Linked DNA regions of Homo sapiens. The protein of the gene in region 1 interacts with the protein of each later gene in a pairwise test. Each region holds a gene or a part of one and is shown on either strand. Other genes may lie near its edges.

Region 1 (4,763 bases):
ATTTTATTTTATTTTATTTTATTTTATTTTATTTTATTTTATTTTGTTTTTCATTTCATTTCATTTCATTTCATTTCATTTCATTTCATTTCATTTCATTTTGAGACAGGGTCTCACTCTGTTGCCCAGGCTAGAGTGCAGTGGTGTGATCTCAGGTCACTGCAACCTCCACCTCCCAGGCTCGAGGTATCCTCCCACCTCAGCCTCCCTAGTAGCTAGGACTACAGGTGCCCACCACCATGCCTAGCTAATTTTTGTATTTTTAGTAGAGATGGGGTTTCACCAGGTTGGCCAGGCTGGTCTTGAACTCCTGACCTCAGGTGATCTGCCTGTCTCGGCCTCCCAAAGTGCTGGGATTACAGACATGAGCCACTATGCCGGTATGCCAGGCCTGTCCTCACCATTTTAAAAGAAGCCCATACCATTCATTTTATTTCTTGAAACCTAAATGGAGAATGGGGAATGCAAAAAATAATAAAAAATAAAAAATAAAACCCAAAAGAAATTGGTTCCATTTAAACATTTTTATAATTTGTTTCATTTTCAAGGCACAAAGAGTTTATGTCAATCATTTTAATGTCTAAGAATACAAAGTTAGCACTAGTAACATCTGGTAGTCTAATCATTTATCATGCTTAAATGTAACATTACAAAACTACATTTTAAAATCTGCCCCCTAACCAGATGTGAAACAACGTGGACAAGGGTGACATGTGCTAGACCCAATCTCCAAAAACGTATGGTTGACAAAGACAGCTGACTGCTGGGGTAAAACTGCAGCAGTCATAATCGAAGAGCGAAAGAGGCCACTCTATTAAAGACTTTGTTTCTTTTGCTAGACATTTTTCACCTAATCCCAGGATAGTTTCTGTTAATGCATCTTACTCTCTTTCAAACGAATCGTCCCTAGAGCAGGTGTACACATTAAAAATGAGCTTTATAGCATCAAACACATACCACAACCAACTCTACAAGGAGGGTTTTCTGTAAGATGTGTACGACTGTCCGAAGAACACATTCTGGCTGATAAGTCTCAGCTCCTGTGAGGTCCTGATGAGTATCTAAACAACCTCACATTTTCTCTTCCACGCCTAGGGTTAAGGCCAGCACTCAGCCCACACACAAAGCTGTGATGAGAGGTTGGTTAGGGATGGTGGAGGCAAAGCCACAGATCAGCCAGAAACTCTTTTGAGTCAATAGTTTCTACTCCCTCCCTAACTGGACCGTTTACCAGAACTGCCCAGGACTTGTCACCATGAATTTAATCTCCCTGGATTTTCCCTGCTTGATGTCTAGATGAGACAATGAAGGGCAGAGAAGTATTGCTATCCCCACACGATACCACCAGCACTGAGGGACTGCAGCCTTGGGTCTCAGAGAGAGCCGCCCGGAGAAGGAACCAAAGTGTGCTTGGTTCACATTTCAGGGCAGGGAGGTTCTCCAAGTTGCAGCAGATATTAAGAGTCCTGCTGAAGGCACAGTCTCTAAGAGAGGGGAGGGAGCAAAGACAGGAAGCTGGAACCAGAGACACGGATAAGCACCCTCCCCCTTGCCTTTCCTGGAAGCAGAGGCAGTGGCATCCTGGAGGCAGAAATGAGGCAGAGTGGGGGTGACCCAGGGCTTCCGGTTCCTGCTGGTCATTGCGTGCGCATCTGTGGGCTTCACAATTCCCCACTCCTTAAAATCTAACCTCAAGCATCTTCTCTGGCACTGCGGTGCCCAATATTTTTGTATGGTGTAAGTCCTCTGTGTATGATCATCCAGGAATCACCAAGAGGTCCCCTCACCAGTGCTTTAAAATAAAATAATGCAATACCATATATGAATGAAATTGTGTGTGTGTGTGTGTGTGTGTGTGTGTGTGTGTGTGATAGAGAGAGAGAGAGAGAGAGAGAGAGAGAACAAGATACTGAAGATTTGGAACATGTTCTCCAGTAAGTTTTCGGTAATTAAGTGGAGTAAAATTGAAGGCGATTGTTAAAATGTCCTTCTTTACACCCTCTGATATTGCTTTAAAATATCAAGATAGGTGTGTCTCATTTTGTAATTACAAAGCAGTATTTTCATTTTGAAGAAAATTAAACTAATGTTTTAGAGAAGAAAAACAGGCTCTCAATGATTTAAAAAACTCTCAGAGACCAGTTTTTTAAAAATTGAAGGAATTGAACCCAAACCTAATTTGTTTTCAAACACACTGTTTTCGTATCCTTGCTCACTCAACTGAGAAATAAGACAGAAAACAGCCCAGCTTCATTTCATTCTTTTTGCAACATCTGAATATGCGTGTTCAATCTCTTGATCAGCTGGACACGTATTTGTGAACTCATCTCTAGCATAAGCATTATTCAAGTATCTCCAGATGCCAGTCATTTCAGAAGGAAATTCAAAATCTCTGTACTTCTTGGCCACAATCTGAAAATGAAGAGAAAATGATCAGTAAAGGGAAAACTTGCTAAGGTAGGCTCCCAAGTCAGACAGTCCATTCTTCTGAGGCATGCAATACATTCTTTCCCAGTTTCCCATGTCATCCCACAGTCATCCGGGCTACCCACCACGGCATCTTGACTTGCATAGGGCCATCTTGGGTGTGAGGAGGGCTATGAAGTTCCTGTACTCACTACAGTGACTGCACATAGTTCTGCCCACCAGTTTGTCACAGATGGGTCTTGGAATCCGCTGGCACGAGTATGCTCTGGACTCTGGTGGATTTCTCTTTGTGTTGCCTGTTACTTTCTTTCCATATGTTGTGCTACTGTGTTACTTGGTGCTATGTGAATAAAGACGCATGGTGGATCTGCTGTTTAAATGGTGCCCTCTCTTCTTCCTACTTGCTGAACCTCACTTCTCCAGTCCCAAACATCTGTGCATGTTAATCCTCCTGAATGCCATCATGCTGCCACTAAGAGCATCGTCTGATCGTGGGGCCCGCCTGTGCGGAGGAGAGATTCATGAACAAAGCAGATGCAAATCCCTACCCTCATGGGGATGGTGGGTGTAAGGAAGAAGCAGTCGAGAGACAGCACCAAGAGAAACACAGCAGTGTGAGATACTTCCTCTAGCAAGAGGGGTACAGTTGGGGAATTAGTCACAAAGATGTGCAGAACACTGGGGACTGTACCAGTTTGCTAGGGTTGCCATAATAAAGTAACACATGCTGGGAGGCTTAGAACAACAGAAGTTTACTGATTCCTAGTTCTGGGGGCCAGAAGTCCAAGATCAGGGTATCAGCAGGGTCATGGATCCTCTGAAGGCATTAGGGAAGGCTCTCTCTCCACTTCTGGCAGTGCCTTGGCTGTGCAAGCATAACTCCATCTTCACAGAGCCTTCTCCCTGTGTCTCTCTTTCCAAATTTCCCCAGTTTGCAACGATACTGGCCATCCTGGATTAGGTCCATCTCACTCCACGATGACTTTATTTTAACTAATTACATCTGCAAAGATCCTATTTTTAAATAAGGTCACATTCTGAGCTACTGGGGGTTAGGATCTCAACACAGGAATTGGGAGGAGGGCACAATTCAACCTGAAGTGGAGACCCAGAGCCATAAAGGCCAGTTGGGCTTTGCTGCCTCCTGTCCCACTGGTTCCCAGGATGTCTGCATGATGCAGGCATGGGGTTAATGAGAAGATCTTTGGGGCTTACTGCGCAGACTTTGGAGGCCAGCAGTCATTGATGCAATGTGACAGCAAAGAAGGACCATATAATTTTCAGAGAGCCTCCTAAATTGTTTGACACCTCTTCCTTGAATGCCAACTTCTTGATGCTCATGTTAAGAAGTCCGTTTTACTTTTGTTTGTATGTACCTGGTTTTTCTTTGCCCATCTTTTTATTTTAACATTCCTGAGTACATTGTTTAAGGCCATGCCTATGAACGTGACACTGAACTTGGTTTTCTTTCTTCTGTATGCATGTGTGTGTCCCTCTTTCTGGTCATTTAAAAGGTTTATGGTCATGTTAATTCTCCAGTGGTTTCCTACATAAATTTAAATATATAGGAATTCTCTATTTCTTGATTTATCAAGTTTTTTTTTTTTTTTTTTGTTTTTTTGAGACAGTCTCGCTCTGTCACCCAGGCTGGAGTACAGTGGAGGATCTCGGCTCACTGCAACCTCCACCTCCCAGGTTCAAGCGATTTTCCTCCCTCAGCCTCCCGAGTAGCTGGGATTACAGGTGTGCACCACCATACCTAGCTAATTTTTGTCTTTTTAGTAGAGACGGGGTTTCACCATTTTGCCCAGGCTGATCTCGAACTCCTGGCCTCAAGTGATCCACCCGCCTCAGCCACCCAAAGTTCTGGAATTACAGGTGTGAGCCACTGCACCCGGCCTTGATTTACTAATTTTAGATGCTGCCTGTTAACTCCTGATGATGACAAATGAGGGAATTTATGTATCTGTGCTTCTTTCCATTTCTTCTGTATTATCCTCCTTCCAATGGTGGTAATGACATAGTTTATTATATTCTGACTCTATTCTGTCCGTATAATTCCCACTGCTGTTTGGTCTTAGGACTAGTTTCAGATTTAAAGGGGTTCTCTGTTTAGGGCCTGTTCTTTTATTTCACACACCTTCTCTGTTTCTGGATTCTTACTTTGATTATGATTTTGTTATTTCATCATAGAACAATTTTATGTTTTTTAAAAAAGAGACCAGAGGTCTAGGTCAAAACGGTAATTGCCTAGATATAAAATTCTTACCTCATACATCATTTTCTTTAATTCTCTGTAGATGTTAAACCACAATTTTCTGATTTTTAATGGGTTC
Region 2 (7,033 bases), on another chromosome or scaffold:
GCCTCAGCCTCCCAAGTATCTGGGATTACAGGCATATGCCACCACACCTGGCTAATTGTTGCATTTTTAGTAGAGATGGGGTTTCACCATGTTGGCCAGGCTGGTCTTGAACTCCTGGCCTCGTGATCTGCCTGCCTCGGCCTCCCAAAGTGCTAGGATTACAGGCGTGAGCCACCGTGCTCGGCCTGTTTCCTATTTTGTAAAGTGAGAAGAGTAGCATGGACTCCCAGGGTTACCAAGAGTATTCACTGGGTCTGTGTCAGCAATGCACCAGGCACAGTGTCTAGACTGTGCTGCCTACTCCCCATTTTGAGGTGCAGAGCTGGGCCAAGAAATGAGTGACTACACAATTCTTCCTAACAAAAGGGCTACAGCACAGTCCATGGCAGCCTCTACCTGCAGGTCCTGGACAGGGCCCCAGGATAAGCTGTGGGAAGGAGAGGGGATATGGGGAGCATAAAGCAGCAGACCCATTTCTGAAGTGGGGAGATGGGAGTGAAGGTTTCAGGGGCCTGGGAGCATAAACATGCCCCTCCTTGGGGATCCTTGCCGGTTACTCCTATTTCCAATATGACCTAAGGAACTAACTCTGAGGCCAGAATTCCAGCTTGGACTTGCCAGCCGTGTGATGCTGCAGCAGTTACTTAACATCTCTGACCACCTGGTTTATCAACTGCAAAATGGTGGCAATAATGCCAGCCTCTAAGCTGCTGTGAGGGTTATATAGGAAAATGCTATATTTAAAGTCCCTACGTGAGGCCCAGCACTTAGTAAGCACTTTACAAATGGTAGTTGGGATTATTAAGGAAACAATCTACCCATTTCGTAAGGAGAAAAAGTAAGCCCAGAGTGAAGGAAAAACCACCTGGGGAAGCACCAGGAAACTCATTGGTAAAAGCCAGTGGGGAGCTAGAGTCCCCAGTGTCCAGTGCAGGGCCCTGCTGGAGAAAGTGCTGGAGCAAGCAGGGGGCCCACCTACCTCCAGGTAGACAACCCAGGGCATGACCAGTGTGGCGACGAGGAGGTCGGCCACTGCGAGGCTGACGATCAGGTAGTTGGTGGTGGTCTGCAGCGCCTTCTCGCGGGACACAGCCATGCACACCAGCACGTTGCCGAAGACGATGACAGCGATGAGCAGGGTGAGCAGTGTGGCATAGTAGTTGTAGTGGGGTCTGTCCGCCTTCCCGTCTGACCCGTTGAAGGGCCGGCTCCAGTTCTGCCTCTCCAGATCATCATCATACCAGGACAGATTCAGTGGATCCATCAGGGCGGTGGAGCCACTGGGTGGCCAGGCTCTGGCCAGGAAAAATGGACACAAGGTGTCAGTGAGAGGGCCTCTTGCAGAGGTCTCCAGGAAGAAGACCAACTCCTGGCATTTAATAATGAGAATTTTCCAACTCGGGATTTTAAGGTTTACGGCTAAGAATTTTCTAAAAATGTTGGGCCTTCTGCCACTCTTTTGCTAGCAAGTTTTTACAGCTGGTAGGACAAATGAGCAAACACAATTTTTTAAAAATGCATAATAAGATGAGCTTGAACAGAGCTGATCCATCATTTATTTATTCATTCAACAAACACTTCTTAAGCACGACCCATGCACCACACACTTCAGTTAACCAGGCTTGCTACCTTCTAGTCATCGAAACAGAAATGGGTATTCATTCATTCTTGATTCTATAAATATTTATTAAGCATTGTTCTATATAGTTCTAGAAATATAGGCAGGAACAAAATATACATGGTTCTGTAGCTCACATTCTAGGAGAAACAACAGCCAATTAATCAAGCAATTACATCTAAGGGTGATAGGGAGTAGGAAATGGAACAGGGAGAGAGATACATAACCTAGTTCAGGTATTCAGGGAAGGCTTTCTAGAGGAAGTGATGTTCAACAGACAAACAACTGAAGGATGTGTAGGAATTAGCCAGGTAAAGAACTAGGAGTCAGCAGAAGGTCTAGACATTGGAAGCAGTATATGCAAAGCACAGAGGTAGAGAGGTAGACAGCAGGTGGAGGGCCTCAAAGAGATTCTGGATAGCTGATGCAGAGGGACCTGGCAAGGGTTGAGTCTGGGGAGGTTGCAATAGGCAAGATCATAGAGGGCCTTAAAAGTCATGCTAGGAGTTTATACATGATCCTAAGGGCAGCAGGAACCACATGATCAGATTCGCCTTTCGAATAGGTGATTCTGACAGCACTGTGGAGAACGGAGAGGAGGGGCCCAGAGTGGAAGCGGGACACCAACTGGGAGGCTGTAGCAGGAATCCAGGTAAGAGATGATGAGGTTTGGCAGGATGCAGGGAGTGAAAGCCCTGCAGAATGGGCATCTCATCCCACAGAAGGGAAAGACTTCCTGAAGTGGGTATCATCTGGGATGAAGTAGAAGGAGGACTTAGCCTGCTAAATGAGAGGGGTGGGGGGATGTTCCAGACAGACAATATGACATGGTATCAAATCATCAAACAGCAAACAATTCTGTTTGGCCAAAAATGTAGGGTATGGCAGTAACGTTGAGGATAATTAAACTGCAGGGACATTTACAGGCCAGATTGTGTCTTGTCAGCTGGAGAGTCCCTGAGAGGTTGGGCCCAGAGACATGACCCTATTGGACTGGTGTTCTAGAAAGTGTATGGTGTAGAAGAGAGCTCAGAGGAGAGTGATGTTTTGGCTGTAATTTAGGTTAGAAATTGTGGTCATCTGAACGAAGATAGTGGAAACGAGGATGGAGAGACCTGTTCAGAATTAGGAGCTAAACTGCAAGTCAATTTCATGGTCCTTGGTCCTTGGATAGGTGTGGGGCAAAAGTGGGTATGGGACAAGCAGGGAGATAAGGAGTTGAGGGTAATGCTAGGATTTCTGCGTGGGGCTCTGGGAGGCTGGTGTCGCATATTCACAGAGAAAAGGGACCAGAGGGGCTCAGGAGCAGACTTGGGAGGCATCAGGAGTTGATGAACTTGACAGCCGGAGTTTTGGTTGTGACTGAAGCATAATGCATGGATAATATAGTTGGCTTTTCAGCTAACAAAAGTCTTCCTCTTTTACAGAATAGAATTAAACTTATCAGCATTCCAAGGTGTTTCATACAAAGCACATGACTTCCAGGTACTTTGCTACTGCAAATTGAAAACCACCAATTGATGCCATTTGGGATGAATGTGGTGCCATGTCCAATCAATGAACAGGGCACACCTCCAGCAATGGGTCAGAGAGGATGGTGGAAGAGGGTCTGCCCAATCTCCACACTCTCATCCCTGTCTGACACACCCACTCTTCCAGCTTTAGTAGAAGAATATGGATCATGTCCTACCAACCACCATCACTCTGGAGCCTCGGGGAAAAGCAAAGTGCCTAATTCCATGTGGGGTGACATGGAATGCCACCACGCAGCAAATCTTCCTGTTCTAAGGTAATGAAGCATATGTCATATTGATGCTGTATTCTGCAAAACCAACTGAGCCCTCTTCCCATTTGGAGCCCACAGCGGGAGGCCTGCATGTATGTATTGATCAGGTGCCTGGGGCTGCTTCTGACATTCATTTACTCAATCGGCATTTATTGAACCTGCTGGGCATAAAGCACTGTGCAAAGCAGTGTCAGGGGCCTGAGGCGTGTGAGGCACACTTACTGCCCCCATCCTGACCATCGCTCTCTTCTTCTCCCCCCACTCCCTGCTGCTGATGATAGCATCATATACTTGTAAAGGGTTTGATAGTTTGCTAAGTTTTTTGGATATACTGTCTCATTTATCCTCAAAACAACCCTCGGAGGCTTTTAATTATTATCCCTGTCTATGGCCATACTACCTGGAACATGCTTGATCTTGTCTAATTATTATCCCTACTTTAATAAGAAAGGGATTTGGAAAACTCTTCTGTTCACTTCCCTTCCCTCTGCTTTTCCAGTCCCTATGCATCCTTCAAAGTGAGTCTTGCCTAGAATCCTCCTGTCTTAGAATCCACCCATATCCTCCTGCCTGAGCCATCACCCACCCTCCTCAGGGTCCTGCAGCACTGAAACACACCCCAGTGCTGCAGGAGACACCTGTTTAGGAGTCTCTTTTTTTCACTGGGGTGTAGACATCACAAGAGTTACAACATGTCTTGCTCATTCCTCCTCTTGTTCTTGGAATGAACAAATAAAAACCATACTATCTTGTTCTTTCCCAACTCTTGACTCTGGTTTGTGGGCAGTACGTATTCAACAGATGTTTGCTGAACTGAATCAAAGGCTCTGTTAGTGCAACTGGGAAGAAAACCCCTTCCCACTTGAAAGGCACCTGCTAACATAGGCTACCAGATTAACAAGTGATGAAAAAGTAAGGCACCCCAAGGGTGCCATAGGTGCTGCATGTTGGGTCCTGTTACAGTCTGCACTATGCTCTTCCCCCAACCCACAAAATGTATATGTTGAAGTCCTAACCCCCAGTACCTCAGAATGTGACTGTATTAGGATACAGGGCCTTTAAAGAGTTGATTATGTTAAAATGAGACGCTTAGGGTGGGCCCTAACCCAATCTGACTGGAGTCCTTATAAGAGGAGCTTTGGACATAAAAAGAGACATCAGGGATGCGCGCACAGAGGAGAGACCAAGTGGGAATGCAGCAAGAAGGCGGCCATCTGCTAGCCATGGAGAGAGGCCTTAAGCAAAATCAGCCCTGTTGACACCTTGATCTGGGACGTCCCAGCCTCCAGAACTATGAGGAAACAGATTTCTGTTGTTCAATCCACCCAATCTGTGGAATTTTGTCATAGCAGCCAGAGCAGACTAATACAGGTCCCTAGAAGTAGACTCTGAAGAGGAAATCAGCCTGCAGGAAATGTACAGGGGAATGCTCTCAGGATCAAGATGTGCAAAGAAGTGAGGAAGCAGGACAGGCCAGAGGGAGAAGTCACAAGAAAGGCATCAGGTGACCCCACAGGGCACCCTGCCAGTTGCCTAAATGAGGGCAACAGGGTAGGGCCTTTAATCCCCTCTCATAGATGTCACAGCTTCTGGCTGTCCCAGGGAAAGCAGCGAGGCCTTGAAAGAGGCATCTCTCCTCAGCAGTGGGCAATTGCCAAAAACTGTCAGTTGCCAACACTCCCAGTAGATGGGGATGAGGGCTGTGGTCCTGCAGGGGGATCTGGGTGGCACTCCACCGTGTCCACTACAGTTGATGTTCAGGAGCATATGCACATGTGTGTGGCTGGGGCGTTTGTGGAGAACTTCCTGGAGGAGGGAGGATGTAAACTGGGATTTAATTTTTTTTTAATAGAGACAGAATCCCACTTTGCCACCCAGGCTGGAGTGCAGTGGCACAATCATAGCTCACTGCAGCCTCAACTCCTGGCCTCAAGTGATCCTACCACCTCAGCCTCCTGAGTAGCTGGAAATACAGGCATGTGCCACCATGCCTGGCTAATTTTTAAAAATGTTTTGTAGAGATGGGGGTCTCACTATGTTGCCCAGGCTGGTCTCACACTCCTGGCCTCAAGAGATACTCCTGCCTTGGCCTCCCAAAGTGCTGGGATTACAGGCACTAGTCTAGGATTTAAAATTATGAGTACAATGTAGATGGCAAATGTGAGCACTGCAGGTCAGGTGGGGTTGAGGGTGAGCATTCATTCTCTGGAGTGCTGGTTACTTCTGCAGGGTAAGGGAGAGTCCCTGTACCCAAGTTCTGAGAAAGGCCTCACACATTTGATTTTCTAATCTATTATTTATTATTGGTTGTTCTCGTTGCTTTTTGTTGCTAATACAAACGTAGTATATTTACACCATAGGAAAAAAAAGGGAAAACATGGCAAATGCCTAAATACCTGTAACCCCTATAAGTACCTTGGTACAGGGCTATCTTTTTGTCTGTTTGCTTGTTTGGGGGTTTTTTTGTTATTGAGATGGAGTCTTGCTCTGTCACCCGGGCTGGAGTGCAGTGGGGCTATCTCGGCTCACTGCAAGCTCCGCCTCCTGGATTCACGCCATTCTCCTGCCTCAGCCTCCCGAGTAGCCAGGACTACAGGTGCCCGCCACCATGTCCAGCTAATTTTTTTGTATTTTTAGTAGAGACGGGGTTTCACCGTGTTAGTCAGGATGGTCTCGATCTCCTGACCTCATTATCTGCCTGCCTCGGCCTCCCAGAGTGCTGGGATTACAGGCGTGAGCCACCGCACCCGGCCAGTACAGGGCTATCTTTTAACACCTGGTGTCAGTCCTGGTTTCTATCGTGTCTTCAGCACCTTATCTACTTGGGGCTTTCACCTCTCACAAGCAGGGGCAGCCTAGCTGGCTCTCACCATGTAAACATCAAGCTGAGCAGGAATTCAGACATCAGCAAATCCACTGCCACAGAGAAGGTACTCTAGCCTGAGAGGTGCTAGTATAACATTCGAGTTGAGGACTAAAAAACCTGGGTTCAAGTCCCAACTCTACCATTTACTAACTTTGGGGCCTCAGCCAGATTATTTGGCTTTCCTGAGCCCAGTTTTCCCATACACAAAATAGAGATAACAACAATTGTGAGTATTAAGTAAGATGACTCATGGCCATGTGCCAGGCACAGGTAAGCCCTTGAGAATGTCAACTTTAAAAATCAAACCAAGCAAAAGAATGAAATGAAACAAGCAATCAGACCACAAGCCAACGGCTCAGCAAGATGAAGTGACTGTTGCTGTTCAAATGCAGCTCACTAGGGTCTGAGGTCCTCCTGGGCCCACTGCCTCCTATGGCCCATCCTGAAAAATAGGTGGCTAGATGAAGGGAGATGGATTTCAAGATGCAGCCACCAACTCCTTGGGAGGAAGTAAAGGAAGGAAAAGACAAAGCCTGTCCCTGGGCCCTGGCTGTAGGACAAACTCAAGTGACCCTTGAGATGAGGTAGCAGCTGGCCTGGAAGATACAGCTCTCCCAGCCCAGCTGCTATAGCCGATGACTGTCATACTAATCACCACATTTCATAGACTCTAAGACAAAATCGAATGAAGATGCACCACTATTTTATATATCACTAGGAAAGAAAAAAATGCCATCCAACCCCAGTAGAGCTCCAAGATGTC

Evidence for each region. Proteins that work in one complex are often made in the same cells at the same time.
Region 2: the proteins of CLIC6 (region 1) and DRD2 interact in a two-hybrid assay, tested with the Homo sapiens proteins (one study listed by BioGRID).

What each region holds. Positions count from the first base shown.
Region 1 is NC_000021.9:34,713,970-34,718,732, reverse strand, and holds the end of CLIC6 (chloride intracellular channel protein 6), read right to left. Parts: intron 2,413-4,763; coding exon 2,251-2,412; 3' UTR 510-2,250; downstream 1-509. UniProt on the Homo sapiens protein: In the soluble state, catalyzes glutaredoxin-like thiol disulfide exchange reactions with reduced glutathione as electron donor. Can insert into membranes and form voltage-dependent chloride-selective channels.
Region 2 is NC_000011.10:113,423,388-113,430,420, forward strand, and holds part of DRD2 (D(2) dopamine receptor), read right to left. Parts: intron 1,296-7,033; 5' UTR 1,265-1,295; coding exon 980-1,264; coding exon of another isoform or gene 976-979; intron 1-975. UniProt on the Homo sapiens protein: Dopamine receptor whose activity is mediated by G proteins which inhibit adenylyl cyclase. Positively regulates postnatal regression of retinal hyaloid vessels via suppression of VEGFR2/KDR activity, downstream of OPN5.